7 linked regions of the Homo sapiens genome follow. The protein of the gene in region 4 interacts with the protein of the main gene of each other region in a pairwise test. Each region holds a gene or a part of one and is shown on either strand. Other genes may lie near its edges.

Region 1 (4,464 bases), on a different chromosome or scaffold from region 4:
TTTTCTTGGGATTTAAACCAGGTAGAGGGGTAGAGGAGGAGTTGAAGGAGGGAAATCTCACTAAAATCGGCAATTTTGCAAATGTAGTGGCCTTGCATTGCAGTAGTGTTGTTTTCAGTAGTCTTATAAAGTCTGATAGGGTGACTTATTGTATGGATTAGATAAAGAATTTAAAATTGGAAGCCAGAGAAAATGTGAAATGAGTGTGTACACAAATTATCATAGAAGAGGGTCAAATTGTTGCCCAAAGGCTTGTAAACTAAGGTGCAGTTTCAGAGATAATCTGCTTAATAAATGTCTCAAAGGATTTTTATTTTCACAAATCCTGGCCCATCTCAGTTGTTCTAATGTAATGAACTATTAGAGAGGTTTGCAGTGGTAAAGGGGACTGGGTGTGTAGGATAAACATCTGTTCCAGACTGACTGCTTCTAGGAATGTGACTTCTGATTCACTTTACTTTCAAAACTTCAAGAGTAATCTCTAAAGTTGTGTATCTTTTACAATGAAATGTGAACAGTTCAAATGTATTATTTTCTCAGTGGGAATGGATTCAGGGGATTTCAGTTCAATATATTCTCCATCAGTGTTTTGTCACAAGGAAACTAGAACTGAGAACCAATTCACAACAAAAAGGTAATCCAAATCAAGAAATAAAATGTACCAGTTACCTTTTCAACTTTGATTTACTGGTCAGTCGAAAAAGCTTTTAAAAAATAGGACAGTAAGGCCTAGTGCGGTGGCTCACGCCTGTAATCCCAGCACTTTGGGAGGCCAAGGCGAGTGGACCACTTGAGGTCAGGAGTTCGAGACCAGCCTGGCCAACATGGTGAAACCTCGTCTCTACTAAAAATACAAAAATTAGCCTGGCACTTTGGCGCGTGGCTGTAATCCCAGCTACTTGGGGGGCTGAGGCACGATAATTGCTTGAACTCAGAGGCAGAGGTTGCAGGGAGCTGAGATTGGCACCACTGTACTCCATCCTGGGTGACACAGCGAGACTCTGTCTAAAAAAAAAAAAAAAAAAAGGAAAAAATAGGATAGTAAACACTGTCAGGTCCTGCAATAATTATGTGTAATACTGAACAGATACTGAACAGAAATGTTCCAGGTGCTGTAAAAACACACATATAAGAATATAATCTGTGCCCTTCTAAAAACCTGTATATGCTGAATATTATCATGGATTTAGTAAGCATTCATTACTTAAAAATTAGTTTCAAATATCAGTGATCAAAAAAAATTTAAGTAGTAAAATAAGTTGGACATACCAAGTTCTTTTGAGAGTAGTATGCTTTCCTACTAAGCTACTTTTGGCAGCTACTTTTGCAGTCGATTTAAAGGTTAAGATAGCAGAAAATTCAAATGTTTAAGTGAGTCATTAGTGTAACCTAGCTGTGAACTTCGTTACACACACATACACACATCCTGAAAGAAAAGCTATTGTTTTACATAATCAGTTTCTGATAATGCTGTGCTCTAGTTAATTACGGGATTTCTTTTTTTACTACCAGGAATTCCTCTTGAATGATATTTAAGTGATTGTTGAATCATATTTGTGTGATTGGTATCCTGATAATTATTCTGAAGTTGAAGCTCTCCTTGTCCTATTTAAGTGTGATTTTGCCGAGCCTTTTGGCTTATGTTTGGTTTCTTGTCTAACAGAGTTATAGTTTGTGTGTGTGTGTGTTTTTTTTTTAAATAATGGAGGAGAAATGAGCATTTTAAATATGTGTTAGAACATTGTTAAGATTGCATAGGCCAATTTAATGAACATTTGAACACAACTCAAGTTCAAATACTAAATATATTTACTAGCTTCAAGTTTGGGTTGGAATTGTGATTTGTATAGCTAACTTGTTGGTGTGCCAAGTAATATAAGATGTACTGTGTGTCTGTACATTAGGTAACTAGGTCAGAGAGTACAGTTAATATAAGATGCTTTTTTTGGTAAAGTGGTCTGTGCCAGTGTAAAATTATTATTATTATTATTTTTCGAGATGGAGTCTTGCTCTGTCACCCAGGCTGGAGTGCGATGGCACGATCTCGGCTCACTGCAACTTTGCTTCCCAGGTTCAAGCGATTTTCCTGCCTCAGTCTCCCGAGTAGCTGGGATTACAGACATGTGCCACCACACCTGGCTAATTTTTGTATTTTTAGAAGAGACAGGGTTTTACCATGTTGGCCAGGCTGGTCTTGAACTCCTAACCTCAAGTGATCCACCTGCCTTGGCTTCCTAAAGGGCCGGGATTACAGGCGTGAGCCACTGCACACGGCATATTTTTAACTGGTAAAATTTGCCAGTATGTCAGCAAGTGTGAGCAATATATTTAACTGTGAAAATTTTCCTTATATGGTTAGTTATAAAATGATGTGGCCTCTAATTCATAAACCACTCGGTATTTGAGGAATCCTCATACCCTATTTGTCTTGGGTATTTGCATCAGAAGTCGAAGCCATGGGTTTTATCTTAATTTTAAAGTAGTTATATACATGACTTTTAAGGACTTTGGTTAGGCTGTTTTTCATTGCAAGGAACAGAAAGTCTTCCGAGTCATCTCAAGTTGGGGAAAAGTAGAACAGAAATTTAAGCCGTACGAGCCAGGCCTCACCTAAGAACAAAAACCCCAGGTCTGCAGTGCCTCATACATACTGGAATACTGTCAGGGATATGGGTCCCACCCAGCTTTAGCGACCAGATACCTTGTTGCCTCCTCAGCAGGAGGAGTTTGTGGCGCCTTACCCTAGTGCCATGGCCCTGTATATGAATGTCCAGGCTGTGTGTTGCAATAAATATACCACCCCAAAGGGGACAATATTAATGTGGTTGGCCTGGACTAACCTTAAAAGAGAGCTTGTGAGGAAGCATGGCTGTGCAGCATCTTCAGACAGTCCTGCAGCAGCAGGGCAGAGCTCCTCCTACAAAAACCCATTCTAGCTCACGCAGCCATGCACACACTTAGCAGAGCATGCACGGACACATTCATTGGCACCTGTATATGTTCCCTAGGCTCCCAGAAGTCTGATTCTTTTTTGAGAGAGGGTCTCGCTCTGTTGTTCAGGCTGGAGTGCAGTGGCATGAGCATAGCTCACTGCAGCCTTGAACTCCTGGGCTCAAGTTATCCTCCCTCCTTGGCCTCCCGAGTAGCTGGGACTGGGACTAGAGGTGTGTACCACTACACCTGGCTAATTTTTTTTTGTAGAAATCAAGTCTTGTCATGTTGCCCAGGTTGGTCTTGAAGTCCTAGGCTCAAGTGATCCTCCTACCTTGGCCACCCAAAGTCCTAGGATTACAGGTGTGAGCCACCATGCCCAGCCAAAGGTCTGATTCTTGACCTTCTTCCTGCTTCTGGGGTGGGAAGCAAGGGAGTACAGTGATGAAGGCACTCAGTGTGTGTGGGGTGAATACAGTTCAGGGGGAGTGTGAGCAGATGAGCATGTGGGCATATGTCTGTCTGTGTGAACTGCCTGGGGAGGCACTGGAAATGTTCTCTGGCAGGACCTGGCTATGCTGGGGAAGTATATCCACACAAGTGGATTCTAGGCGTGAGCCACTGCGCCTGGCGGCTATTGTTGATTTTGATAGCTTATTCTAACACCTTATTTTCCTTCAAGAGACTTCATAGTCATAACTCGTAGTCAGTTATGATCCTTTTTTTAGGTGGTATCACTTTATTACATTTGTCTTATTCTCCTTTTATTTTCTGTGACTCTGCCCGCCTACTGACTACCTGTCTACCTACCTGCCTACCCAAGTCAGTGTTTCCCGAACTGTATTTATGGCTTCCTAATATGCTGCAAGTATTTTAAGTGTGGGGTGAAATACGTTTATAATGCACATGAGCTCTTTAAAGCCTCAGAAACATTTTATACTATAGAGGGTTTTTGTTTTTCATTTTCCTCCCTTACCCCAAAGAATACCTGTTTCTTTCTCATGAGATACTCATGGGATAGATACTACTATTCTAGTTTAATAGAACACAGTTTGAGATGCACCTGTAAAATTAATTTTTTTTAATTTAAATTTAAATTTTTTGAGGAAAGGTCTTGCTCTGTCATCCAGGTTGGAGTGCAGTGGCGCAATCTCTGCTCACTGCAGCCTTGACCCCCTCGGGCTCAAATGATCCTCCTGCCTCAGCCACCTGAGTAGCTGGGACCATAGGCATGCACCATCACACCTAGCTAATTTTTGTATTTTTTATAGAGACAGAGTTTTGCCATGTTGCCCAGGCTGGTCTTGAACTTCTCAGCTGAAGTGATCTACCCACCTTGGTATCCCAAAGTGTTGGGATTACAGGCATGAGCCACTATGTCTGGATTTATTTTATTTAAAAATAACTTTAGGCCAGGCGCGGTGGCTCATGCCTGTAATCCCAGCACTTTGGGAGGCCAAGGCGGATGGGTGACCTGAGGTCAGGAATTCAAGACCAGCCTGGCAAACATGGTGAAACTTTGTCTCTACAAAA
Region 2 (4,464 bases), on a different chromosome or scaffold from region 4:
GAGACGGGGTTTCACCATGTTAGCCAGGATGGTCTGTCTCCTGACCTCATGATCCACCCGCCTCGGCCTTCCAGTGCTGGGATTACAGGCGTGAGCCACCGCACCTGGCCTCTAGGTTTAAGATTTGAACAAGACTGAGAACCTTATAGGCCTTCAATAAATACCTCTGGGCTGATTATTTAAATGGCAGCATCAGATCGATACATGGTATTTTCCCATTACTTAGGCATTTCTAAAGCAAATATTCCCATTCTCTAACGCCATTCATTTTCAAAAAGCTCTCAAGTCTTTCAACATTTTAAAAGAAGATAAAAATTTGATTTTCCAAGGTAGGGAATTAAGTAGCCTCTAATTTATTCTGTTCATTCTACCTCACACATATACACTCCAGTCAAATGTCCTGTAAACCATTCTGCATAGAGTAGAACAGACACACAATGCTTCATGAAGGTGGAGACTTTAATCATCTACAAAGCCCTCAGACCTGTTTTACTTTATATGTTTAATCATACAGATGCCATCTACAGTATTTTGTAGTTAGTAAGCAGCAATAAAGTTTATTCTGTACTACTTTAGCATATTAACTATTACTTTTAAGTTGAAATAGAAAAATTATATCACTGTCTTTTCATCTTGAAGCAATAACAATGAACTCATAACTCAAATCTGTTTACCAGCTTAAGAGAAGCATTTAAAATCATATAGGCTTTTTCTATGCTTTATTAGAAAGATTTATGGAGGGGGAAAAAATGGTAGAATTATTCCAAGGCATGTTCAGGAACAACAACAACAAAAAGAATTTGTAACTGCAATTCCAGCGTTTCATAAATGTCCTCTATTTCCATTTAAAAACTCTCTAAAATTAACATAATTAAAGCAGCTAATAAAACACAATCCCTGCAACTTTTATATATAAGGAAAGTCCTCATACAGTATCAGTAGACCATGGCTTATAAATAAAATATACTGTATTTGTTATCAAATATAGAAACAACAGTTCCAGATTTATGTTTTTTGAAAAAATTAATTTATTTTAAGTTAAGGATCTCTACGTAAATTTATTTTGGTATCAAACAACTGCAATTAGTGATGGGGGGATAAAAGCATCCCTAATTGTGGAAGGATGGTAATTTATTTACAAAAACTATACAAAATTAGATTAATTATAACAACAACTTATCAAAGGTTCCTGAAATTAATTTTGCTTTTGAAAAAGTATCAAAAGTCTTCAGATCCAGAATGATAGCATTTTATTATTTCTGATTCATGGAATTATAGCACATCAGATCTTTAAGCAACTACATCAGATAAAATCCTAGATAATAAAATATTCTTCATTTCCTGACAGCTTGGAATGTAAATGAAAACTTGTTCCATTTTTATTAAAGAAAAAACCTAGAATAATGCATCCAATGGTATCAAATACCTGTTAGAATGGCGTGTCTGCTATAATTAAACATGGGCAATTAGTTCTACATAGTTAAAAATTGCCTTAAATTAATTCCTTCCTTTAATAAAAAAGTTTTTCTCAGTCATTTCAGATCTCTGTTATTCGGTTTTAACTAGGAAATTTGCATTTACATAAGGAATCTTCAAAATAGTATATATTTAAAAAGTGCATATAAGCAAAACTAAATTTCTCAAATTAAATAATTTAATATTGTATTGTAAAATACAAGTAGCCTTAAGAGAAACATGCTTCGTCAATCTTTTGCTTTTAGGTTTGGTGCCCAAACATTTAAAAATAAAGAAAAAAATACCACGACTCTTTGCTAATGGCTTTTAAGATTTGCAGACACAGCTAAATACTCATCTAACAAAGTATCCAGGCTATCCAACTATATTGCCATGAATTCATAAGACAGTAACACACATTTATAATATAAAAGTAGTCAAAAAAATAAAAAGAAACAGCCACAGGTAATTTAGGGCTAAAATGAGTCCTAATAAGGGTTACATGAGAAATAACATATAAGACCCCAAATAAATTTTAGATACAAAATTAAATGATGTGGCTTTGTTCAAACATACCTAAAATTCAAAATCAAGTTAAATACCTAGGCTGGCTTTTTTATATCACCAGCTTTCATTAGGGCTTTAATCGCTCTTGCCCTCATCTCAAGTTCTAGCAGCTCCAGTTGCTGTGCAGAAGGTTGAACATCTTCTGGTGGAGGAACAGCCAGGGTGGCTGCTTTGGGTTCGTTTGGGCTAGACTCTGCCAGTCCTAGAATCTCATTCACACTTTTCTCAATGTCTTTCTCCAGGTCATCTATCTGACCAGCTTCACTTTGGACTGTATTTTCTGGTGCCTCGGGAGCAGCTGCTTCTTCGTTGCATGGGCCTTCTATGTCGCTGTCATAAGCATCTGCATTTATACTGAGTACATCACTATCTTCCCCTTTTCCTGTAACCAAAAAAGGAGAAAGATCCATGTAACCTAAATACCATGGGTCACAATTTCCTTACTGTTTATAATTTAAAAACTGCTTTGATCCCACCTCCCACTATGGAGTCCCAAACACATTCCATAATCCCCATGCCACCCTCTTTTCCCCTGACTCCTCAACCTTCAAAGCAGATCTAATGTAATGTAAATTCAAATGTATTTTTCATTCTGATTTAGTAGAACATGGGAACATTAAGAAATTTCTTCCATCATATGCAGTACCCATGATCTATTTTCCTAATTAAAATGTCATAACATTTTTATCACAGTAAAGCTTCTGCACTACAAAATGAAAGCTGACATTGGAAATCCTCTGGATACAGTATGGCTTACTATTCAAGCAGTAAAATTTCATTCTAGAAGGTGTTTAAATACTTTGCTTTATAAACTACAAAAAAGAAAAAGTATCATCAGCAAGCAGGACAACATATGCATTGCAATTATCCCAATCTTTTCATACGCTTTTTCAAACACTTTGTTCCAAATCAATAAATTAAAGAAGAATGCCTAAGGCCATTTTCTAAGGTAAAATTTGTTTTAATGACGAGGATTTTAATTAACAAAGTTAGTTCACCATAATTTTAAAAAATGCATTTGTTATAAAACTTCTATAACTGATGCTAACAACATAAATAAACACAGATTATGGTTCTCGACCACCTTGTTCTTGGCATTGAATACTACTCAATTCCAGGCATCATTTGCAACTTTGAATACTCACTTATATTCCTAATTAATTTATCTTTTAAATATTGAATATGTTTTTTGTGTGTTTTTCTTGCATTTTCTTTTTTTTCTTTTTATTTTATTATTATACTTTAAGTTTTAGGGTACATGTGCACAATGTGCAGGTTAGTTACATATGTATACATGTGCCATGCTGGTGTGCTGCACCCATGAATATGTTTTTTTTTTTAAAAAGTCATGATCCCCAAAATGTTAGCTTTCCCTAATATAAGAAAGCTTTGATAGCGCTTTCCTTACAGTAGGGAAAGCTTCTTTACAAAACATAGATTGACAGATGGTAAATTCTGATAACAGACTGTACAGGAAGGACATAAACAATTATACTCCATTGGTTTTATAATCAATGATGATTTACTGACCTTCAGTGATCCTCCTACATGCTTATAATTGAAAAACCACCCCCATTCCAAAATTAAAGTGGAAAATAAAACAAAAAATTATTTTTGTGTCCATAAATAGAACTTGTAAAAATAAGATTATCATTTTATTTGATGGCAAAGAACATTTTATATATGTCCGCAAAGCAACAAATATTTCCAAATAGCATAAAAAACTACAGAAAATTGAATAAAACCTTTCAAGAAACAATATTTTATACAAGTATTCTAACTTGAGACTAAAATAGATTTAAGAAAATAAGGCCAGGTGCAGTGGCTCATGCCTGTAATCCCAGCACTTTGGGAGGCTGAGGTGGGCAGATCACCTGGGGTCAGGAGTTTGAGACCAGCCTGACCAACATGGAGAAATCCCATCTCTACTAAAAATACAAAATTGGCCAGGCGTAGGGGCACATGCCTGTAATCCCAGCTACTCGGGAGGCTGAGGCAAGAGAATCACTTGAACCTGGGAGGCGGAGGTTGTGGTGAGCCAAGATCGTGCCATTGCACTCCAGCCTGGGCAATAAGGGTGAAACTCCGTCTCAAAAAAAAAAGAAAATAAGTGCTAAGTTGTTCACAGCCTCAAAAAATTAACTTTAGTGTCTCCGAGGCTTTACCTAAAATTTAAAGTGTATAGTCACTGATTCTGAATAAGAAACTACAGGCTGTATAAAATATTTTAAAATACAAATTTTTGAAAAATGTGACTTGTTTTTCAGACTAGGGGTTGTTGCGAGATAATGAATGAAGAGCTGAATAATATAATGAGGGGGTGGAGAAGAGGTAAACGGTAGTTGATTCAGAGGCTTGATCAGACTCAGGTTCAATTTTCTGGTAAGAATATTTAGAAGTGACGTTGTGTACTTCCAGCACATAATATATAATTGCTTTTCT
Region 3 (4,464 bases), on a different chromosome or scaffold from region 4:
GTTCCCATCTTTGTGTCCATATGCACTAGCACAGTGTTTAGCTCCCACTCCAACTGAGAACATGAAGCATTTGGTTTTCTGTTCCTGTATTAGTTCGCTTAGGATAATGGCCTCCAGGTTCACTCGTGATTGCAAATGACATGATCTTGTTCTTTTTATGGCTGCATATAGTATTCCATGGTGTATATGCACCATATTTTCTTTATCCAGTTTACCATTGATGGGCATTTCGATTGATTCCTTGTCTTTGCTATTGTGAACAGTGCTGTGATGAACATACGCATACATGTGTCTTTATGGTAGCATGTTTTATATTCCTTTGGGTATATATCCAATAATAAGATTGTTTTAAGTTCTTTGAAAAATTGTCGCACTGCTTTCACAATGGCTGAAACTAAATTACATTGTCACCAGCATTGTATAAGTGTTCTTTTTCCACAACCTTGCCAGAATCTATTATTTTTTGACTTTTTAATAATAGCCATTCTAACTGGTATGAGATGATATCCTGTTGTGGTTTTGATTTGCATTTCTCTAATGATGAGTGATTTTAGGTTTAGCATTTAGGCTGAGCATTTTTTCATATGCTTGTCACCTACATGTATGTCTTCTTTTGAAAAGTGTCTATTGTGTCCTTTGCCTACTTTTTTTTTTTTTTTTTTTTTTTTTTTTTTTTTGAGACAGAATCTCACTCTGTAACCCAGGCTGGAGTGCAGTGACAAGATCTTGGCTCACTGCAACCTTTGCCTCCCGGGTTCAAGCAATTCTTGAGCGTCAGCCTCCCAAGTAGCTGGCATTACAGGCGTGCACCACCACGCCTGGGTAATTTTTGTATTTTTGGTAAAGATGGGGTTTTGCCATGTTGGCCAGGCGAGTCTTGAACTCCTGACCACCTGCCTTGGCCTCCCAAAGTGTGCCACCATGCCTAGCTAATTTTTGTATTTCTAGTAGAGATGAGGTTTCGCCATGTTGGCCAGGCCCAGTTTTAGAATATTTCTATCACTCTCAAAAACGCTTTTGAGTCTGTTAACCAGTTTTGCTTGAGCCAGAAGAGCAGCAAACCACAGCAGGTTTGCCTGAACTATGCTTTAACCAGGCAATATTGAGAGCCCGGCAAAATGTGTCTGGATAACTGGCTTCGGTGGTCCACTTTTTTTTTTTTTTTTGAGATGGAGTCTTGCTCTCTTGCCCAGGCTGGAGTGCAATGGAATGATCGCGGCTCACTGCAACCTCTGCCTCCCAGGTTCAAGTGATTCTTCTGCCTCAGCCTCCCAAGCAGCTGGGATTACAGGCACCCACCATCATGCCCGGCTCATTTTTGTACTTTTGTAGAGACAGGGTGTTTCACCATGTTGCCCAGGCTGGCCTCGAACTCCCGACCTCAGGTGATCTGCCTGCAGATGTTGTCCTTTTTATTTTTATTTTTTTGAGACGGAGTCGCTCTGTTGCCCAGGCTGGAGTGCAATGGTGTGATCTCAACTCACTGCAACTTCTGCCTCCCGGGTTCAAGCGATTCTCCTGTCTCAGCCTCCTTCTGAGTAGCTGGGATTACAGGCGCCCCCCACCATGCCCGGCTAATTTTTGTATTTTTAGTAGAGGCAGGGTTTCACCATGTTGGCCAGGCTGGTCTCAAACGCCTAACCTCGTGATCCACCCACCTCGGGCTCCAGGCGTGAGCCACTGTGTCCGGCCTAGTGCTCCACTTTTTTAGGCAAGATTTCTCCTTTTCCCTTCCTTTAAATCTCTACTGGCTAACTTGTCATTCTGGATAGTTTTAGCAGCCTGCTAAGCATTTCATCCCATCTTAGAGAAATGGAATAAATTATTAATTCAAATTTGGTTAATCTAGAAAATTGTCTCAGGGAGTTACTATGACTCAAATAAGTCTACATTCAATAGGTGACAAATTATTCTGCTAGTGGAATATGGCAAAGAAAAAAATCAAGATTATAACAGGAACAAAGTTAAACTAGATATGAGTTAGAGAAAAGACTTACCTCAGAAAAAAACCCACTATATTTTGATGATGGGCTTTCTGTCTGTGAAGAACCAGAATCACTGGAGTTAACCAAATATGTTCGACTATCATGGTGTAATTTTTCAGGCAGGTGGCCTGCACAAGCCAGTTCATTTTCTTTATTTGCCATGTCACAGCCCCCACTTCCAGGGGACTGTTTTTTTCTGTAACAAGGATTTGGAAAGGGATGATGAACTTTCTTTCTGCGATAGATCACTTTACGAAGTTTATCTGGGCTTTTCACAGTTTGTCCAACTGTTCTGTAAAAAGAATTTATTTTCTTAAATGAAAAAGAACCATATGAAATCCTTTAAAAGTTTTTAAACAGAGAATTAATAGGCTATATTTGGTGATTGTAATCCACTAAAATTAGAAATAAATAGAATTTTAAAAATCTTAATTCTGAGTTGAAGAGAAAAGTAAAAGGGAAATTACAAATTATCTGGAAGACAATGTAAAGGATGACATTTTATGCCAAATAAAAATGAAGACAGACATAATAACCAGAATGCTTTTAAAAATGAAATATTAAAGGCCATTCTGGGAGTAAGAAGACCACAACATTTTCTAGAAACCTGATCTTTTTCTAACAAAGTGGCAAATAAGACTGCAAGTGTGAATATTTTAAAATTTAATTAAGCTGAAGTATATTGATTTATTTGAGTAAGAACACGATAGAGCAAGCCTCATCGTTTAATACAGTGGTTCTCAAACGTTTTAGTGTCACGATGCTTTGCTCTCTTAAAAATAATTAATGACTCAAAAATTTTTTTTTTTTTTGAGATGCAGTCTCTCTCTGTTGCCAGGCTAGTGTGCAGTGGCACAATCTCAGCTCACTGCAACCTCCACCTCCCAGGTTCAAGTGATTCTCTTGCCTCAGCCTCCTGAGTAGCTGGGACTACAGTCGCGCGCCACCATGCTGAACTAACTTTTGTATTTTTAGTAGAGACAGGGTTTCACCCTGTTGGCAAGGATGATCTTGATCTCTTGACCTCATGATCCACCCACCTTGGCCTCCTAAAGTGCTGGGAATACAGGTGTGAGCCATGGCCAAAATAATTTTTATGTGAATAGTATCTATTGATATTTACTGTGTAAAAACTAAAACAAAATTTAAATCATTTGTTAATTCATTCAAAAAAAGACTAATTACATATTAACATGGAATATCTTACCCAAAACCCATATTTTCTAAAATAATTTTTTAAAAAGTGAGAAGAATGGTACTGTTTTACATTTTTATATATCTCTAATATCTGGTTTAACAAAAGACAGCTGGGTTCTCATTTCTGCTTCTCCATTCAATCTACTGTGATATCAAATGGCATATAGCTTCTTGAAAAATTATATTGTACCCTCAAACAAGAGAATGAAAATGAAGACAGTCAATGTCTTAGTATTGCTATGGAAGTAATTCTGACTTCACAAATTCCATGAATGGTCTTTAGGGACCCGCAGGTCCTCAAATCACACTTTGAAAACCAGTCGTTTTGTAGAAAGTGCCTTTAGAAGTTAGGCAGATCTGAGAATGAATGTCATTCTTACCACTTTTCTAGCTATATGATTCTGAACAAATCATTTAACTTATCTGATCTTAAGTTTTCTCATCAACTGTTAGGGTTAATGTTATCTATAGAGTAGGCTATAGAGTAGGACTGTTGTAAGGAGCAGAGACAATATTGATGTGTTTATTAGTGCAGATACTGGCATAAAGAAGCTGTTTGACAATAAGTTAATTATTATTATGATAAAAGAATGCTTATTTTTCCCTTATTGTCATCCTTACCCAGCTTTCATATTTGTTGTTCCCCACAAACTTTAAAGAAACTCTTACCTATTTATGTAAGCAGCCAACTGTTTTGGAGATTTCTTAACCTGAAAAATGAAAGTAGATAGTTGATGTTAGAAACAAATGCTTGGTGCCGCAAAGAAGAATCAGCACTCCGGCAAAAAGCTTTCTCAGCAAGGCAATTTACTTCTGCAGAAGGGTGCCAATCGTGCCTGGAGTGGTCGCAAGAGCATACCGGGCATGGGAGGAGAAGGGGTTCTTATCCCTAATGCAGCTAGTCCCTACTACTGTGTCATTCCCCTATTGGCTAGGGTTGGACCGCACAGTCTAAACTAATTCTGATAGGCTATCTGGGTATGAGGCAGAGTGGCGGGGTGAGCAGTTTAGGCAGGAAGGATGGTTACAGTGCAGGTGACTAAGGATGACTAAGGACAGAGCAGGTGACTAAGGATGACTAAGGACTCTAAATATGTGAGTATAAAGGCTAGAAGGGGGTTGTTTACTGAAACTAGGGCAAGGAGGTGTAAAGAATGAGGAAGTTAAACTTTAAAATGGAGAACAAAGTATAAGAAAGCTGAACATACTGACATACTGGTTCCCAGAGGAACTCAGAACTCACTGTACTTAACAATATCCCCCTTTTGAATTTTACAGGTCT
Region 4 (3,500 bases):
TAAATTAGGTATTTCCTGAAATCTGATTTTTATATCATATAATATGGAAGATTTTCAAATATTCAGAATGTTTATTTGATTCTCAGATTTATTCAGACTCTTTGTTTTCTCCTTCTATTACTATTTCTTGCCCTTTTGGCTATTTCATTGGTTTGTGTCACTCAACAACCAGAAACGAAAAGGAAAAAAGGCATAAATGGTAAGCAGTTCACATCAATAAAAATACCCGCTTTCACACAGTAAAACCATTTTACTTTATCTCCACGGCCTGCCATCTGTATCAGTGCCCCACCTTCTGACCCCATTATTTCCTGTGCACTGATATTTCTACCAATCGCCGCCAATCACCTCCCCTCCATGACTCTAGCCCTATGCAGTCAAGTGTGCCAGGGTCTGGAGAACCTGAGTCAAAGCAACAGTTCTGGGCCCTGAACTTACAGACCACATGCTCCTGAACTGGGAACATAAAAAAGCAGTTATCACCAACCAAACTGGGGAGAAGAGTATAATGACAGAAATCACAGGAAACCTGGGTCATAGATGCTCAACATATGGAAATCCTGGGAAATAAAAAAGGAAGGGGAAGGAAAAAGAGACACCCCAGAGGCCTTAGAGCCAAATTATATTGTGATTATGAGAACAAGGGCTGGGCACAGTGGCTCATGCCTGTAATCCCAGCACTTTGGGAAGCTGAGGTGGGTGGATCATGAGGTCAGGAGATCAAGACCATCCTGGTCAATATGGTGAAACCCTGTCTCTACTAAAAATACAAAAATCAGCCAGGTGTGGTGGTGTGCGACTGTAGTCCCAGGTACTCAGGAGGCTGAGGCAGGAGAATCGTTTGAATCTGGGAGGCGGAGGTTGCAGTGAGCCAAGATCGCGCCACTGCACTCCAGCCTGGTCAACAGAGCAAGACTCCCTCTCAAAAAAAAAAAAAACAAGAAAAAGTCTTCTCTGCCTGAAAGGCTAATCTCTACTCCTTCCCCTGTTCCGCACCCTTGCTCCATGGCAGAAATTCCCCTTAAGACAAAGCTTATTCTGTAACAGAGCGGGGGAAAAATGGCTTTTTTTTTGAAGCTGCAAAAAATCTAGTAAACCTATTTGTCAACAATAACAGATTCAACTCCTTATACCTGTTTTATTAGGAAAAAGAGGGGAAGGCACCAAAGGACCCACTCTGCTACTTTCATAATCTGTCACAGGCTGATCACTATTAAATATTAATAAGTACCCATTCAACATATACTTCTTGGGCATCAGTTGTCCACACTAGTTGCTAGGGATATGAAGGTGAGCCATGCTGTCTCTGCTGTGCCTAATGAAGTCTGTATTTTCATCTAGTTTGGGACACACAAAACCTGTGGGCAGAGGTAATTCATATTCCAAGGAGGAAATGAAGAGCAGTAGGCAGCAAGAACAAAAGACAAGAAGATGTACATGACAGGATGTGGGTAAGGGCCCTCAGCTGCTTTGGGTGGCACCCAGCACAAGCCATACCTCAGGCTCTATACCCCGCCTTAAGCTGTGGCCTGTCATTTCCTATGCCTTCATCCCACTGCTGAGGACCACTGAGAAGGTGCCTGAACAGATGCCATCGCTATGGCAAAATCTAGAGATCCTACAGCTTATTGCCATCATGGTCAAGGCAGAGGAACCCAAGACAACTCACCATGTGCCGGCGGAGTATCGTTTGGCTCTTCATATATTTTAAACAGAATTCACACATATAGAGACGTCCCAGCCGTGCATATTCTTCAGGATATGGAGAATGATACCAGGTATCAAGCTCATAGCGGCCAAAAGCAATTGTTTTAATCATGTTGCTTCCCTCTGTGATTTGGCCTTGCAGCCTTAACTTCTCCTATTGCCAAGAAATCAAAAGTCAAAGGAGGATCAGAATTTATTATCTTTGCTTTTAGACAGGGCACAGTGGCTCCTGTAATCCCAACACTTTGGGAGGCTGAGGCAGGCAGGTCACTTAAGGCCAGGAGTTCGAGACCAGCCTGGCCGAAATGGCAAAACCCCATCTCTACTAAAAATACAACAATTAGCAAGGTGTGGTGGCAAACAATTGTAATCCCAGCTACTTGGGAGGCTAAGGCAGAAGAATCGCCCAAGAGGCAGAGGCTGCGGTGAACCGAGATCGCACTACTGCACTCCAGCCTGGGAGACAGAGCGAAACTCCTTTTTAAAAAAATAAATATTATCTTTGTTTTTAAAAGTGTGTGTGCATGCCACCACGCTAGGCTATGAAAAAAATCAGACAGATTTGGCTTCTATCCATGAGAATTTACACTAAAGAGAGCTACATGAAAAATCACACAGGTGTACAGAAAACTTACTACCCATACTGCCCAGAGCACAGGTCTCAAAAGAGAGGTTTCTCTGCTACCTCCCACATTCTGGGCCTCACCAGAATGATACCTTGGAAACTTCATTTTTATCAGCCTAGACCAAACTGAATTATAAAGAAAATCATCACAGATACAAACTCCCCACCCTTATAAAGTATTCTAAAACTAAACAAAAAACTTGATTTAGAATCTGCCTTACTTATCTGCAGAAGCTTTTATAAAGCTATATGAATCTCCGTGAAATATATCCACAATGGTCACTTAGAAAAAAAAACAGGCCCTTTAAAAAATATTTTTGAAATGTGCATGATAATTCTAGAATCTAAACTCTAGAAGGCAGAAAATATTTCTGGGATGGGTGTAGTGGCATGCCTGTAGTCCCAGCTACTCAGGAGGCTGACGTGGGAGAATCGCTTGAGCACTGAAGGTCGAGGCTGCAGTGAGCCATGATGGCACCACTGCACTCCAGTTTGGGCAACAGGGCAAAACCCTGTCTCAGAAAAAAAAAAAATTCGGATATCCATCTCCATTCAGTGGCTCTGAGTTGGCTACAAAAGTATAATTTGTAAGCATAACCAGGTGTAAAGTTGTAAAAGGCTAGCCCAGGAAATGCTCCATGCCAGAATAGGATAGAGAAAACCAGCAGCAGTAACAGCCCATCCCAGCCAAGGGTAGCCAGCAAACCCTGCCTCTGCCAAGTTTTCAACAAGTCTAGTATTTGATACAATTTTTTTTTAATACAAGGGGGAAGGGGGTGAAGACGAGATTCACTTTAAAACTGAGCTTCCCTGAACACATTTAATCTGTTATATCAGAGGTAAACTCAATCACCAGAATTTTCTTCAAGCAAAGTTGTTAAAAATTCTGCCTAGGACAGCAACTCAGTATAAACTAGCTCTAAATAAATATCAGAATGGAAAACCAATGTATCAAACTTGGCTGTGTCAAAGATTAATTCTAAAACATCTGACAACAGCCTTTTCCATTATTCCTCTTCACTGTTATTTTCATTCTTAGTGCAGAGGAAACCTAGCAAAAGGGGAGTTCCTGTTGGGATTAAGAAAACAACAGAGATGAGTCTCTCCTAGGCTACAGGTTCTCAGAATTGCAAATTGCCCAGCTGAGACAAAGGGGCGCCTATGGTTT
Region 5 (4,464 bases), on a different chromosome or scaffold from region 4:
GGGGGTCAAATGTGACTGAACCCCACACCCCACTCCGTGGCTTTCCTATTGCAGTGAGAGCCGTAAGCCAAGGCAGGGAACTGATGTGGGATCTCTTCAACAAGCTGGTCCTGAGACGCAAGGGTAGGAGGCAGGGCCGCTGTCTGCCATGGGCTGTGGCATCGTTAATTCTCTCTTGCCTTTTTCTTCCTGTGTTTAAGTCTCTGGGGCCTGGGGAAACCAGTGCTCCCCACAGACCTCCCTCACTCACCCTTTCCCCTCCAGCCTTTTCACCTCTGGGGCTGGTGAGGGGCCGGGAGGAGAGAGCCCGTATGTCAGACAACAAACCGTCTCTGCTAACCCCCAGCAGCCACAGGCAGAGGAAGAAGAGGACAACTGGAAATCCTAGCGGGCGCCGCCATGCCTTCCTCCCCTAAACCCAGACTCTAGCCATGGCCCGGACGTGGACACAGCCAGAATGGGATCCTCAGCCCTGCTGCCCTGGAAGGGGCGGGGATGAAACTGTCCCAGGTCTGTGTGGAGACCACCTTCGGGGAGCGGGAGGCTGGCTTGAGGCCACGCAGCTGGGGTGGGGGCTTCCGTCTGCCTGTGCTCCATCGGAGGATGGCTCCACCCAGCCCCTGCACCAGTGCGCTCCTCGATTCCCTAAAGAGGCTTCCAGAGAAAACAGCAGCACATATCAATAAAAAACTCAGCAGAAACCAACAGCACACTTTTATTTAAGGACCTATAGCTGTGCAGGATGCAAACATCTGGGCATCAGTGACTTTCCTCCTGCCCCCGTTTGTCCCTGATGGTGGCAGAAGATCCCAGCTGACCACAGCCCCTTTCTCTGGGGTCAGAGGGAGAAGACAGGCGCAGTCAGCAGGGGCAGCTGTTGCAGGTGGGAGGGATATTTTCCCACAGGAACAAAGGTCTCCGTGATGACACGGGGTCTCTATAGTCATGTTGAGAGCCTAACGGCCCTTGGCATAATTGCTGGTGTTGGGGTAGAAGGTGTCTTGGAGTTTGCTCAAGTGGTTGAGAGGGAGGGAGGTGCCATAGACTTGGAGGAACTGGCACGAAGCCAAGGATACAAATCCAGGCAGGGCTGTGGGACAGGATAGGGAGCAGGGCCTTCTACTGAAGGAGTGACTCAGGAAGGAGGAGGGGAAGGTGACAAGCCCCTGGGCAGGAGCCCTGTGGCCATGGATCATTTTAAATTGAGACCAGAGAGTGAGCAGTCCAGGGCAGCTATAACCTTGGCTAGAAAGGGCAGAGGCAGATGGGCCTGCTCCATCTCGCCTCTTAAGAAGGTGGGCAGGACGGAGATGCCACAGTGGATGCCACAGCTGCCACAGCCTCCTGCGGAGACCAGGAAGGAAGCCTGGCTCTCAGCCATGCAGGATGGAAAGAAAGATTCTATTCCAGGAGGGGAGCTGCCCTGGAACGCCCCAAGGACAGCCAGGACCCACTGTTCATTCAGGATTCCCCCATTTTCTCCTACGGGAGCTAACGCCTGTGCCTGGGTCCTGGCAGCACTCTGGACTCCACACTCTCCTCCTGGGTTTCACCTTTGTAACAGGATCCCCGCAGACCACGCCCACGACAAACACTGTCTCCAGCGGGCAGGACAAAGGAAGGGCACGGCGCCAGGCAGTGGTGTGGTTGCCCATCAGGAAGAGGCCGACTTCTCCCGGTGAAACTGGGCAGACAGAAGGCAGTGAGAAATGTGATCTCGGGGTGGGGAGGCTCTCAGAAAGAAAAAGGTAGGACTGACCTTCTGCACAGCAGCAATGGCGGGGCCAAAGGTAGCTTTGACCTCCACACGGGCTCGGATCCAGGCCGGCAGCTTGGCCAGGACAGGGGGCCGGGCATATCGCTGGTCCAGGAGCACTACGCTGGCAAAATCCTTCTGGTGCCTGATGGCCCTGCCTGCATAGGAACAGAGGCTGGGGCTCCGAGCAACACCTGCCTCCCCCCTACAGCACATTCCCACGGCGACCCCCTCCCCTTCCTCAGACTTATATAGGAAACAGGGCAGGCAACCCCTCTTTCCTGTTCTCCCTTTCTCCAGCCCCCATCTGTCCACCCAGCTGGAGGCAGCCAGGCTCACCTATGGACTGGTTGACGGCCTTCATGCACAGGTTCTCCACCAGAGCCTTCCCTGGGGGTGCCTGGCCGGGGGCTCTGGGCTGGGAGTGAAGGGGAAGACCCATCAGGACTGTTCCCTGCCTGCAGCTCCCCCTGGGAAAAGACCCTGCCAGGCTTTGGAGCCAGACCAGGAGGCTTCGTGGCCAATGCCAGCAGCAGGGGTCCAGGTGACATCACAGGGAAGATCAAGAGGGTGTGGAGGGGCATCCAAGCTTCCGGAGGGGGCAGGAGACGCCAGCGCAGCGGGGAAGGCCTGGCTGTATCAGCCCTGGGGGTGATGCCACTCCCACCCACTGCCTACTCTCCTGTCACCCTCTGTGACACTGGGGTCACTCACGAGGGTTTGATCCAAGTAGGCCATCTTCTCCTGCAGCTCTGCAGACCTGATGTTGGGGAAGGGCATGCCCACCATCACCACACACCTGGGCGGGGGAGACAAGAGCCCAGCAGGTGGACGTCAGGACCTCCCGGGTCATCACCCACGTCACCAGCTGCTCCGTTCTACCCCTTCCCTCAGCCTCTCCGACTGTGATCAAAACTCAGCCTCTCTCCACTCTGTACCTACCACCTGGAGAGGGCTTGTTCGGCTGAGAGATCCCGTCTAGGCCAATTGACTGGGTCCTGATACAGCAATGGGTAGCCTAAAATCCAACTGCTCTCCCAGGACCAAACCCAGAGCTGCTGAGCCCCTCCCTCCAGCTGGCTGGTCTGAGCAGTCGCAGCCCAGCTGTGGGCTCTAATGGCAGCAGAGAGCAGGCAGGGGCCCAGCTGCTGGGAGTGAGGGCCGGCCATGTATCACGGCCCAGGAGACGAGCAGAACCACTACTTACCGGCCTAGGTTGTCAGAGAAGTTGATCCCTTCACTCATCTTTCCTCCAACCACAGAGAGGAGCAGGGCCCCTGTCACCTGGCCTCTCTCCTGGCCACAGGCCTGTAGGAGAAACCCAGACGCTGAGTTGCTGAGCCAAAACTTGGATGACACCCACAACGTTTCCAGCTGCCACCCCCACACGATCTCAGACCCAAGCCCAGCATGACGCCCGCACCTGGATGCACCTGGAATATGCCAGCAGCACCTGCTCCACCTGGTGTGCGCTCTTAGGTTCCTGGAATATCTGAGAAAGACAGAGGACATTTCCCAGAGACAGGTTCAGGGTGCCAGGTCTCGAGTCTGCTCGTGGCCTTGTGTTTTCTGGCCAGGGGACTGGAGAACCTCACAGCCAGGGACTTTGGGGGAAATCCTCTGTAGTCAGGGACTGGGAGCGGTGGGGATGAGGAGCCAGAAGCCTGTCCTGACCCGATGAGCACGAGAGCTCCCAGGAGGACTCAGTGGCACTGTCCTCACAAGTGGGAAGGCTGCCGACAGGCCACTCACCTTCTTCCTGGCAGCCAGACGGCCCAGCAGGCCACCCTTCTCCCAGTGGGCATGGACCTGGCGCAGGTACTCGTAGGAGGGGAAGAAACAGACCACCCCTCCAGGAACCACACCGCACAGGTTACAGAGAATGCGACCCACCTCGTCCATCTAAGGAAGGAAAGGAGGGAGGGAGGGAGCCCCCATGGAGCAACCCCTCAGCCACCCACAAACCGCGTCTTCACCTTGAGACTCAAAACTGAGGAGAGACCCTCGGCAGGACTACAGCCAAGGAAGAGGACTTGGCTCCCCTGGGTGGGAACCACGGGGTGGTAGGTGCCACCTCCCACCAAACACACCCAGCCGCTGCTGCTGACTGCGCCTTTCTGACACATGTCACAGCACTAGCGTCCCTAGGGGGCCTCCCTATTGCCCTGGCACTGAGTCCTCCCTTCTTCTGTCCAGGGTCCTGATGGGCACCACAACGACAATCAGGGGCTGCACACCCCAGGCACACCACAGGAGATGCCCCCAAGCCCCACATCCCTACCCCCGGCAGGGGCAGATATAACCAAAGGGCAAGAGAGCCAAAGGGAACTAGCAGCTTTCTCCTGTGTGAGGCGTCCTCAGAGGATGCCTGGAGGTTTTATGAATACATATTTCGCAGCCTAAGGCGTGAGGGGCGGGGAAGCTCAGACCTTCCTCCATAAGCATCTAGATCGACGCCGCTCATTCTGTGTGGCTCTAAGCGGGTGTCCCTGTGCAATTTCCCCAACACTGAAAACACTCAGGGTGGGCCAGAGCGCCCCTGCCCCAGAAAACCCTTTGCTGCCTGAGGCCAGGCTGTGGTGCGGCGAGCTGGCTGGGACTGACCATCTGAGGCAGCTCTCTTTTCTGGAACGTGAATTCCAGCGGCTGGTTGGAGATCCCGCTGCAGATGACGAGGGGCAGGATGTTGTCTGGAGGGATCACGTGAC
Region 6 (4,464 bases), on a different chromosome or scaffold from region 4:
GCAGGGCCTGATTGAGGACTGCCAGCTGGCGCTGCAGGTGAGGGCCTTCGGAGTCCCCATGCCTATGTTCCTGGGAGAGCTGCCCAAGCAGGTATTAGAGCAGAAAAAAGGAGATATGGGGTATGGCTTGGAGAGCCTGGCTTTGGCTGGCCATAACCCCAGAGAATTTGAGGTGCCATCTTCTGCATCCCTGCCGCCTCAGGCAGCACCCCCACCCCAGCCTCATGCCAGGACCTTTGCAATGGTTAAATAGCTGCTCTCTACTTCCCACTGTTCCTATGCAGCCAGTCCAGCTGTTACACTCGCACCTGAGTAATTATCTTTCAGCACAACCCCGATCTATTCTCTCTCTTGCTTAGAAATCCTAAATAGCTCCCTCATGTCACTAGGGAAAAACATCTAAATTTAAATTGAAATATAATAACCTCTGCGATCTGGCCCTATCCTGGGAGGCAGCATTCTCCCATGGCTTCCGCCCCCCAGGAGCTTTCTAATTCTTTTTTTTTTTTAAACAGTGAAATTCTTTATTCAAATGAAATCTCACAGAAGCAGGGCCACTCCCAGTAAAACAGGGTTGGGGATTCTAGAGACCCCACCTGCTAGGCTCCACTTTTGTGGACCCCTTAGGGTTCTGAGGAGCAGAGCTTGGAAAGTGAAGCCAGGACATAAGGGTTCTGTGTCACCTCTGTCACAGCTGACTCAGTGACCTTCAGTGAGTCCATTCCTACCTCTGGGATTCTGTCCTCGGGTTCCGAAAGACAGGGAAGGGAGAAAAATAAGTACAAAGTAGTGAGTTTTACATAAAGCCTGTTATTCTGTTCTATTTTTACAATGTTAAAAATGTCCTTTCTTTTATGTTACAATAGTAAGAGAAGATTATAAAAGTTTCTTTTTGAATGCCCTTTATAGATTAAAAGGTTGCCTCCCTGAACAACTTTTGTCTCAGGGAATACTTACTGGTTCTTGAAGCCCAAAGGTGTAGAACTCCTTTGGACAATATCCATGTTTTTCAAACTTTTTGATTGCCTGCCATAGGGAAAAAATGCATTTTAGTACTCATTATATATAACTGAAATAACAGTTCTATAAAAAGATACTTTTAGTGAAATGTACTCTGATAATCTTTCTTTTTAATGCTGTTTGGGACCCATTACTTATTTCATGACCCATTAATAAATTACCACTTGCATTTGAGAAACATTCATTGTACTAGATCTTGGAAGTGCATTCCTGCTCTGTAGCATTTTTGTTTTGTTTTGAGACAGAGTCTCTCTGTCGCCCAGGCTGGAGTGCAATGGCGTGATCTTGGCTCACCGCAACCTCTGCCTCCCAGGTTCAAGCAATTCTCCTGCCTCAGCCTCCCAAGTAGCTAGAATTACAGGCGCCTGCTACCACGCTTTGCTACTTTTTTGTATTTTTAGTAGAGACGGGGTTTCACCATGTTTGTTAGGCTGGTGTCGAACTCCTGACCTCACGTGATCCATCCGCCTTGGCCCCCCAAAGTGCTGGGATTACAGGCGTGAGCCACCGGCCTGTAGTTTTAAATTTACTAATGTTAAAACTAAAGTTTTAAAACCCGGCCTGTAGTTTTAAATTTACTAATGTCATCATGTACCCACTGTGTGTCAGGAGCAATTCTGCTATCTGCTTGTGTATACATCTTGTATCCTTGTTTGACGTAAAAAGAAACGCGAGGGAGCTTGGAAGACGTGTCCAAGGTGAAAGAGCTGGGAAGCAGCAGAGCTCAGATTTGACCCCAGGCTACCTGACTATCTGACCTTCAGCCTCCCAAGAGCTGTACTTTTCTATACTCCTGCTCTCTCCTTTCCAGGTTCCCTCTGCACCTCACGCAGCTCAGCACACTCCTCAGTGTGTGGCACTTCATCAATATTGGTCTATGCAAACCTTTTGTCTTTTAGTTTTATTTCTTTCCCTTCATTCCCAGTCCCCTGCCTACTTTCCTTTTTCCCAGGGGCACCCATCCAATTTTAATGTTTTGATACATATGCTCGAAAAGCTAAAGCATTGTTCTGCATATGTGTGCATTTTAAATGTCCATAAATGGCATTGAAGCTGTGAATCAGTTTCTGTTGCATTGTGTTTTTTTAATTCAGCACTTTTTTTCAAGATCTATTCATGCTGCTCCAAGTACATCTAGTTCTTTGCTTCTAACAGCTGCAGAGAAATCTGCGGTGTTCATTCACCATATTTTGTTCATACATTCCCCTGAGGTTGGAGACCTAGATTGCCTTCCAGTTCCTGCCCCTACAAACCGTGTCACCATGAGCATCCTGGTACATGCTCCCTTCTGATTCTGTGCCAGTCTCCTGTCATTGTAGCTGGGAGTAGAATTGCTGGATAACAGGACACCTGCAAACGGCGTTTTAGTAAATATCATCTAATTGCTCTCCCGAATGGTTATAATACTTTATCCTCATAATGAGCAGTGCATAAGAGATTACATTTCTGCATGTCCTCATCAAGACATGGCATCATCCAGCTTTCTAATTTTGCCAATCCAATGAGTGTAGCGTGATCTCATTTTCATTTGCATGCCTCTGATTACTAATGAGGTTCAGCATCTTTTCATATACTCACTAGTGTTTTTTTGTTTCCCTTCCTGTGAATTGCTTATTCATGTTCTTTACCAGATTTTCTGCTTTTTTCTTTTTCATGTTGCTTAGCAGGAGATCCTTGCATATTTTAGTTTAGTTCCTAGGGATAATTAAGCCCTACTGCATATGGGTATGTCTTATACATTCCCTAGGGCATGGATTATATACATAACAAATTAACCTCTAAGCCTGTAGCATGGGACTATTTACCTACTGTTCTCAGCAAAGTTCAGAAAACACTCAAATTATTTGCTGTTTTTTTGTTTTTGTTTTTGTTTTTCTTTTTTTGAGGTGGAGTCTTGCTCTGTCGCCCAGGGTGGAGTGCAGTGGCGCGATCTTACCTCACTGCAACCTCCCTCTCTGGGGTTCAAGTGATTCTCCTGCCTCAGCTTTCCGGGTAGCTGGGACTACATGTGTGCACTACAATGCCTGGCTAATTTTATCATATTTTTGGTAGAGATGGAGTTTCGCCATGTTGGCCAGGCTGGTCTCGAACTCCTGACCTCAAGTGATCCACCTGCCTTGGCCTCCCAAAGTGCTGGGATTCAGGCGTGAGCCACCGTGCCTGGCCATATTTGCTGGTTTTTGAGATTCAGATGAGGAACTTCAGTTGAAAAAGTCTGTTCTAGATAAAAATTTCTAGTCAATGTAGATATCGCCAATATTTTTTCTTAGAATGTCACCCACTTGTGGCATCTAGCATTGAATGGAAATCCTTGATTTTTTAAAATTACAAATAACCATTGATTATTTTAAAGCAGTATTTATTAATTGTAGAAATTTCAGAAACACAAATAATCTAAAAAATAAAAGCACCAAATATTCTTCCAGGTCGTTTCCTGTGTGAGAGTATGTGTGTGTGTGTGTGTTTGCTTGCCAAAATACAATCGTGTTGTATGAAATGTTTTATAATCTGTTTTTTGTTGTTGTTAATAATTGCCATCTTTACATGTCAATAAATTTTTATTTAATATCCAGTCCAGGGCATACTCCGGTTTCTCCAGTTGTTCCAGAAATGTGTTTTTACAGCTGGTTCATCAAACCAGGGTCCAGTCTAGATCTTCACGTTGCATCTGGTTATCTGCAAGTTAACAATGGAAAGCATGACTTTACAAATAGTTTCATGTAATAATGTTGAAGAGATGATAAGAGTTATAGGTATTCTATGGCACGAATGTAATTACTGGTTCAGGTAAGGATTATCATTGATAGGTAACTGCCTTAATACAGTTACCATAATAATACCATAAGCATTACTTTATTACATAAGCCAAATAATACCATAAGCATTACTTTATTACATAAGCCAAATAATACCATAAGCATTACTTTATTACAATCCAAGGGGTCCCTTTTTCCTCACGATGCTGGCTTGTTAAAGAGACTGCCAGTTGTCCTGCACAATGACCCGCTTTCCAACTTTGCCTGGTTGTTTACTCCCGGTATCGTTTGGTTTATTACCCAGCCTTATCCTTAATTTCCTGTAAACCAGACTGTAGATTTTAAATGACTGATATTGGGTGGGCACGGTGGCTCACGCCTATAATCCCAGCACTTTGGGAGGCCAAGGCAGGTGGATCACTTGAGGTCAGGAGTTTGAGACCAGCCTGGTCAGCATGGTGAAACCCCATCTCTATTAAAAATACAAAAATTATGCCAGGTGCGGTGGCTCATGCCTGTAATCCCAGCACTTTGGGAGGCTGAGGCAGGTGGATCACAAGGTCAGGAGTTCAAGACCAGCCTGGCCAACATGGTGAAACCCTGTATCTACTAAAAATACAAAAAAATTAGCCAGGCCTGGTGGTGGGCATCTGTAATCCCAGCTACTCAGGAGGCTGAGGCAGGAGAA
Region 7 (4,464 bases), on a different chromosome or scaffold from region 4:
ATTATCACATAGTATTCTGCATGCAATCATATACAATTAGGAAGATGTGAGAAAACATACCAAAAATGCTATATTTAAAATATTCATGTGCATGAGGTTATAAATATGACAAATATGTAGGAATTGTAGAATCCTAATATTATGTCACTAAGAATAAAAACGAGCTCAGTTATTAAAACATTTGGGCCTCTGGAGCACCAATAAATGTCAATGTGCTTAGCAAAATTTGGAATCATGAGCAAAGTGTGGCAGTGCGTGTTCCATGTAACAGGCACTCAAAAATTATGCCCAGTGAAACTGCTAAGAGCAGTTCCACACATGATCATTTAAATTTGTTCTAATGAACCCGAGGAACTGATCTTTGAAGTGGCCCCTGGTGAGACTCCACTTGCTCTTAACAGCATCCTGAAAGGATTTATAGGGTGCAAAATGAGGACCTTGTTTAATTTATGGAAGTGGATTTGCACCTTCTCTATGTTAGGTGAAAAATAGCAATCCCCTGCTTCTCCCCCATAGACCTATATGACCCATTTAGAATGACTACAAAGCCAATGCCTGCTACGTTACAATGTTACTAAGGTCTGTATTTTATATTTCAGATGGATGGACCAATGTAAAGCAAAATTCAGCTTGTTGTAAAAAGATTTGTGGTGTGTGCCATAGGGACCCTTCTTTTGAACCAAAGTGCATATTCTGATAGTGCTTAGAAAGTACAGTAGCCACAGAACAAGAATGTTCATCATGTAAAATGTTATTCACTTTATAGCAATGAAAAAAATCTGGAAATTATCAATGAATGTATTCTATAGCCTTCGTAGATAATCAAGGACCTAGGTAAAACCATGGGTTAAGTTAACTGAACCTATGCCATGTTGATTCTAATACGCATATAGATAAAGCTGTGACTCCAGGTCTGGCCTACTATACTCTCTATGCCTCTCATGCCACTTAAGACATTCTACTCATGTTCCAGATATTTGTGTATTTATCTTTCTCACCGTCATCAGTTATTTTGAAGAGAGAAACCAGGTTTACATGACGTCTGCAGGCCTTGCAGAACCTAACAATGCACTTTGCTCAAAGTAGGCATACAACAAATATATTTATGAATGAATAACTTTATCAAATATTTTTATGCTTTGATAAAGCTTTAATGTGTGGTTTTAGCCAGGGTTTATGAAGGAGGATCATTGGGAATGGACTGTGAGGCATATCTTCCTAAGTCATCTTTGAATCATGTGAGGGGACAAATACTGCTTGTTTCTACGTGCAGAACAGCAGGAACATAACAGCTTGTATAGTTTGAATGGAAAAAGTCACATAGCTGAGCCATGGATGCTTGTCATTTCTACAAATCACAAAAACACAGGGATATGAACTTGGAACAATTTGTGGTTCTTCATTAAATCTTAATAGCCTCGGATGAGTGCAAGAGATGAAAAAAAATCAATGGAATAAGAACTACTAAAGTAAAAGACAAATTAAGCACCAGTGTGAACATAGTGACCCTTTCAAAAGACATGAGGCCACCTGTTAAGTTTTGCATGCAATTTTACAATCTAGTCCAAACTATTGGATTCCACTTTATACTGACAACTCTTTTCCAGGGGCATTGTGAATCTCTCAGTTAAGGTAGAGTTCTTATCACCTGGGAACTGCATGGTGGTTTGTGTGACTCACTCTGTTCTGACCCATCTGACTGGGAGGAAAGCTTTTAAGGCACTTCTTTAGATTGGATGGATTACATTATATATCATTTCTTTATCCCCAATATATATTTTTAGCTCCTCACTTACTATGTCCTAGGTACTGTGCAGGAAATCAAAGATGAAATGGAAATAATGTAGTAAGAGAAAAATGGCAGATGAATGAATAAACTAAAATACGATTAATGCTATTATAGAAGCATAAGGAAAATATATGAAATTGTCAACTTGACAGCCTATAGTCCTATCCCACTTATTCTACTTTAATTTTCTCCATTGCACTTACCATCCTAAACTATATATTTATTTGCTTATTAGTATTTTACCCTCAACTAGAATATGAACTCTAGGTCTGTCTTGTTCTTTAATGTATCCTTTTGATGATGCCTGGCACATGGTAGGTTCTTAGTAAATATTCCTTGGAAGAGTGAATGAATAAGAGAATTGAAAATTCTATGGGACTTAAAGGTGGGAGTGGTTTTCTTTGCCCAAGAGTCAGAAAATGTTTCACATGGAATGATCTCTGTGCTGGCTCTTGAATGATGAGGAGGAATTAACCAGGCCAAAAAGGGAGAAATGCTAGAACTGGTAAAAGAAGTTGAGTATGCAAACTCATTGAGGCATGGAGGGATAAGAAATATTTGGGGATTGTTATCTCTGATGGGCACATGGCTAGACCCTGAAGGTATGCGGAGATGCTGGGAAGGTGCAAGTGGTCTGTTATGATAGGCTCAGAAGCTCGAGCTTTTTTCCCTCAAGGCAGTGTGAACCACCACAGTCTTATGAACAGCTAATGACCAGAGCAGATGCAGCTCTTTAAGATAATGAAGAGTTGAAGTCGTGCTTTCCATTTTTCCAGAGATGCTTTCTCATAATGCAAGGTGGTTAAAATCCAGAATGTGATAACAGACTTTCGGAAATGAAGAACATGTCATCAGTAAAGAAACAGAAAAATCACCTTCCATGACGACAAGCCGTGTAGACTGTACCTTCCTCACTGCCAACCACGAAGTTATTGACGTCTCCCGTTGGGAAAGCCATTCCGGTAACAGCGACAGGCTTGGACTTATTGTACACCAGCTCCATGCTCTCCTACCAAAACACGGTGTGGTTACATTTCCATCTGTCAACTCCTTGCCATGCCAAAGATAGCACGGAAAAATCATTTGGCTAAATCATGTGTTTGCTTTTCACACAGCGTTACAAAAGACCCCGGCTGTGCCAGAAACCATGCTTTACTGCCCCTGACATTCATGCTTCTGTGGATCTCTGGTTTCAAGCCGGCTGGATTTCATCAGCATGTGCTGCTGCTTCTTAAGTCAGGCAAAGATGACAGGTGAGAATTTTGAAACTAATGGTGCAGAAACTAAAGATAATAATGGTTACACTTGTCAGCTCCAAGCTTTAATAAAACACACAATACCCTTGTATTTACAAACATTTTCAAAATCAATTGTTTGTGAGAATACACATGTATTAATATCAGATGTACTAAGCAAATTTGTCAAAGCAGGAGTATGTGTCCTCCATGGACTAAAACCAGAAAGTTGTCACTCAGGTCATAAAAACCAGATTTCAACAGGGACTAGATTTCATGCAGGGCAGCCATTGGGTGAATAGGCTATAAGCCTGAAAAGAACAATATTTAAATACGTCTTTAAAATAGCAAATGGGAGTCTTTATTTTATAATATGATTTTTTAAAATTGAGAATTAAAGATTCCTAATCTTAAAAGATATACTGCTGAGTTAAGTTTAATGACAGAAAAGAATAATCAATTATAACTAATATCCCTGAGTATTTCTGGCTATTTACATCAAATAGCCTATTTTGTGCATCTGAAATAATTTTTAAAAAATCATTCTGAGGTATCATATCATTATAGTTGCTTGAGAGTTTAGTCTTTCTTGTGCAAATAAACTATTTCAGCCAAGGAGTCCATTAAATTGAAAGTGCAAGCTAACAGTCTAAGCAACACAGACTGATTCTGATCCTGTGATGTGTTCAAAGTTTGTGATATCCACACATAGGGTGCACATCAGCAACTGGGATAAAGGAGAGGATGCTGTGACTATGTCATACAGATAACTGGATCATCCAATGATCTGCTTCATCACTAAAATTAGCAGCAAGGAAGGAAAAGTCCCTTTACCCATTTGGGAGAGAGAAAGACCAGGCCAACTGTTGGATGCCCCTATTCCTCCCTGCCATCCATGGAAGCCATGTCACGAAATCCTCCATCTTTGTATAGACACAGGAGTCTGTGAGCATGCTAAAACTAATACAAACGGACTTAGAGCCACCATATTACTGGTTTTAACCTAAATAAATATGTGTAATGAGCAAAATGGGCAATTAAAAATTCCTAAATAGTGGGCTTGCTCTTATGTCTGTTTATAATCTTCAGGCTTTTAAAAGAAAACAAAACATTGCTGAGAATTTTAAGACAAAGCCATAAAATACCAATCCCTCCAGCCCTCTATAATGTTAAAGATCAGCGAAAATAGTGGAACTTCAATTGTAAGCAGCTTATTAGCACTCTCTCCTTTTTCTCCCTAAAATTATTTTAAAAAAACGTAGTATTCTTTACATCCGTATTTTGTGGAGGCTTAAAGGAGGTTGGTTCTTCACAGTTTCCATATTTCCTTTTGTGTGTGTGCATGTGTGTGTGTATAATAATAATAATAATTATTTTTTTCAAGAGACAAAGTCTCACTCCGTCACCCAGACTGGAGTGCAGTGGTGTGATAATAGTTCA

The links.
Region 1: the proteins of KAT7 (region 4) and RERE interact in a two-hybrid assay, tested with the Homo sapiens proteins (one large-scale study listed by IntAct).
Region 2: the proteins of KAT7 (region 4) and CAAP1 interact in a two-hybrid assay, tested with the Homo sapiens proteins (one large-scale study listed by BioGRID and IntAct).
Region 3: the proteins of KAT7 (region 4) and KATNBL1 interact in a two-hybrid assay, tested with the Homo sapiens proteins (one large-scale study listed by BioGRID and IntAct).
Region 5: the proteins of KAT7 (region 4) and DDX11 interact in a two-hybrid assay, tested with the Homo sapiens proteins (one large-scale study listed by BioGRID and IntAct).
Region 6: the proteins of KAT7 (region 4) and KCTD13 interact in a two-hybrid assay, tested with the Homo sapiens proteins (one large-scale study listed by BioGRID and IntAct).
Region 7: the proteins of KAT7 (region 4) and DYNC1I1 interact in a two-hybrid assay, tested with the Homo sapiens proteins (one large-scale study listed by BioGRID and IntAct).

What each region holds. Positions count from the first base shown.
Region 1 is NC_000001.11:8,810,177-8,814,640, reverse strand, and holds part of RERE (arginine-glutamic acid dipeptide repeats protein), read left to right. Parts: intron 1-4,464. UniProt on the Homo sapiens protein: Plays a role as a transcriptional repressor during development. May play a role in the control of cell survival. Overexpression of RERE recruits BAX to the nucleus particularly to POD and triggers caspase-3 activation, leading to cell death.
Region 2 is NC_000009.12:26,840,244-26,844,707, forward strand, and holds the end of CAAP1 (caspase activity and apoptosis inhibitor 1), read right to left. Parts: intron 2,405-4,464; coding exon 2,058-2,404; 3' UTR 442-2,057; downstream 1-441. UniProt on the Homo sapiens protein: Anti-apoptotic protein that modulates a caspase-10 dependent mitochondrial caspase-3/9 feedback amplification loop.
Region 3 is NC_000015.10:34,150,793-34,155,256, forward strand, and holds part of KATNBL1 (KATNB1-like protein 1), read right to left. Parts: intron 3,893-4,464; coding exon 3,852-3,892; intron 2,278-3,851; coding exon 1,998-2,277; intron 1-1,997.
Region 4 is NC_000017.11:49,816,181-49,819,680, reverse strand, and holds part of KAT7 (histone acetyltransferase KAT7), read right to left. Parts: intron 1,862-3,500; coding exon 1,670-1,861; intron 1-1,669. UniProt on the Homo sapiens protein: Catalytic subunit of histone acetyltransferase HBO1 complexes, which specifically mediate acetylation of histone H3 at 'Lys-14' (H3K14ac), thereby regulating various processes, such as gene transcription, protein ubiquitination, immune regulation, stem cell pluripotent and self-renewal maintenance and embryonic development.
Region 5 is NC_000012.12:31,101,027-31,105,490, reverse strand, and holds the end of DDX11 (ATP-dependent DNA helicase DDX11), read right to left. Parts: coding exon 4,361-4,464; intron 3,659-4,360; coding exon 3,509-3,658; intron 3,249-3,508; coding exon 3,180-3,248; intron 3,065-3,179; coding exon 2,964-3,064; intron 2,556-2,963; coding exon 2,471-2,555; intron 2,175-2,470; coding exon 2,096-2,174; intron 1,915-2,095; coding exon 1,760-1,914; coding exon of another isoform or gene 1,685-1,759; coding exon 1,655-1,684; coding exon of another isoform or gene 1,458-1,654; 3' UTR 692-1,457; downstream 1-691. UniProt on the Homo sapiens protein: DNA-dependent ATPase and ATP-dependent DNA helicase that participates in various functions in genomic stability, including DNA replication, DNA repair and heterochromatin organization as well as in ribosomal RNA synthesis.
Region 6 is NC_000016.10:29,918,763-29,923,226, reverse strand, and holds part of KCTD13 (BTB/POZ domain-containing adapter for CUL3-mediated RhoA degradation protein 1), read left to right. Parts: coding exon 1-37; coding exon of another isoform or gene 38-91; intron 92-1,265; coding exon of another isoform or gene 1,266-1,373; exon of another isoform or gene 1,374-3,696; intron 3,697-4,464. UniProt on the Homo sapiens protein: Substrate-specific adapter of a BCR (BTB-CUL3-RBX1) E3 ubiquitin-protein ligase complex required for synaptic transmission.
Region 7 is NC_000007.14:96,033,953-96,038,416, reverse strand, and holds part of DYNC1I1 (cytoplasmic dynein 1 intermediate chain 1), read right to left. Parts: intron 2,799-4,464; coding exon 2,665-2,798; intron 1-2,664. UniProt on the Homo sapiens protein: Acts as one of several non-catalytic accessory components of the cytoplasmic dynein 1 complex that are thought to be involved in linking dynein to cargos and to adapter proteins that regulate dynein function.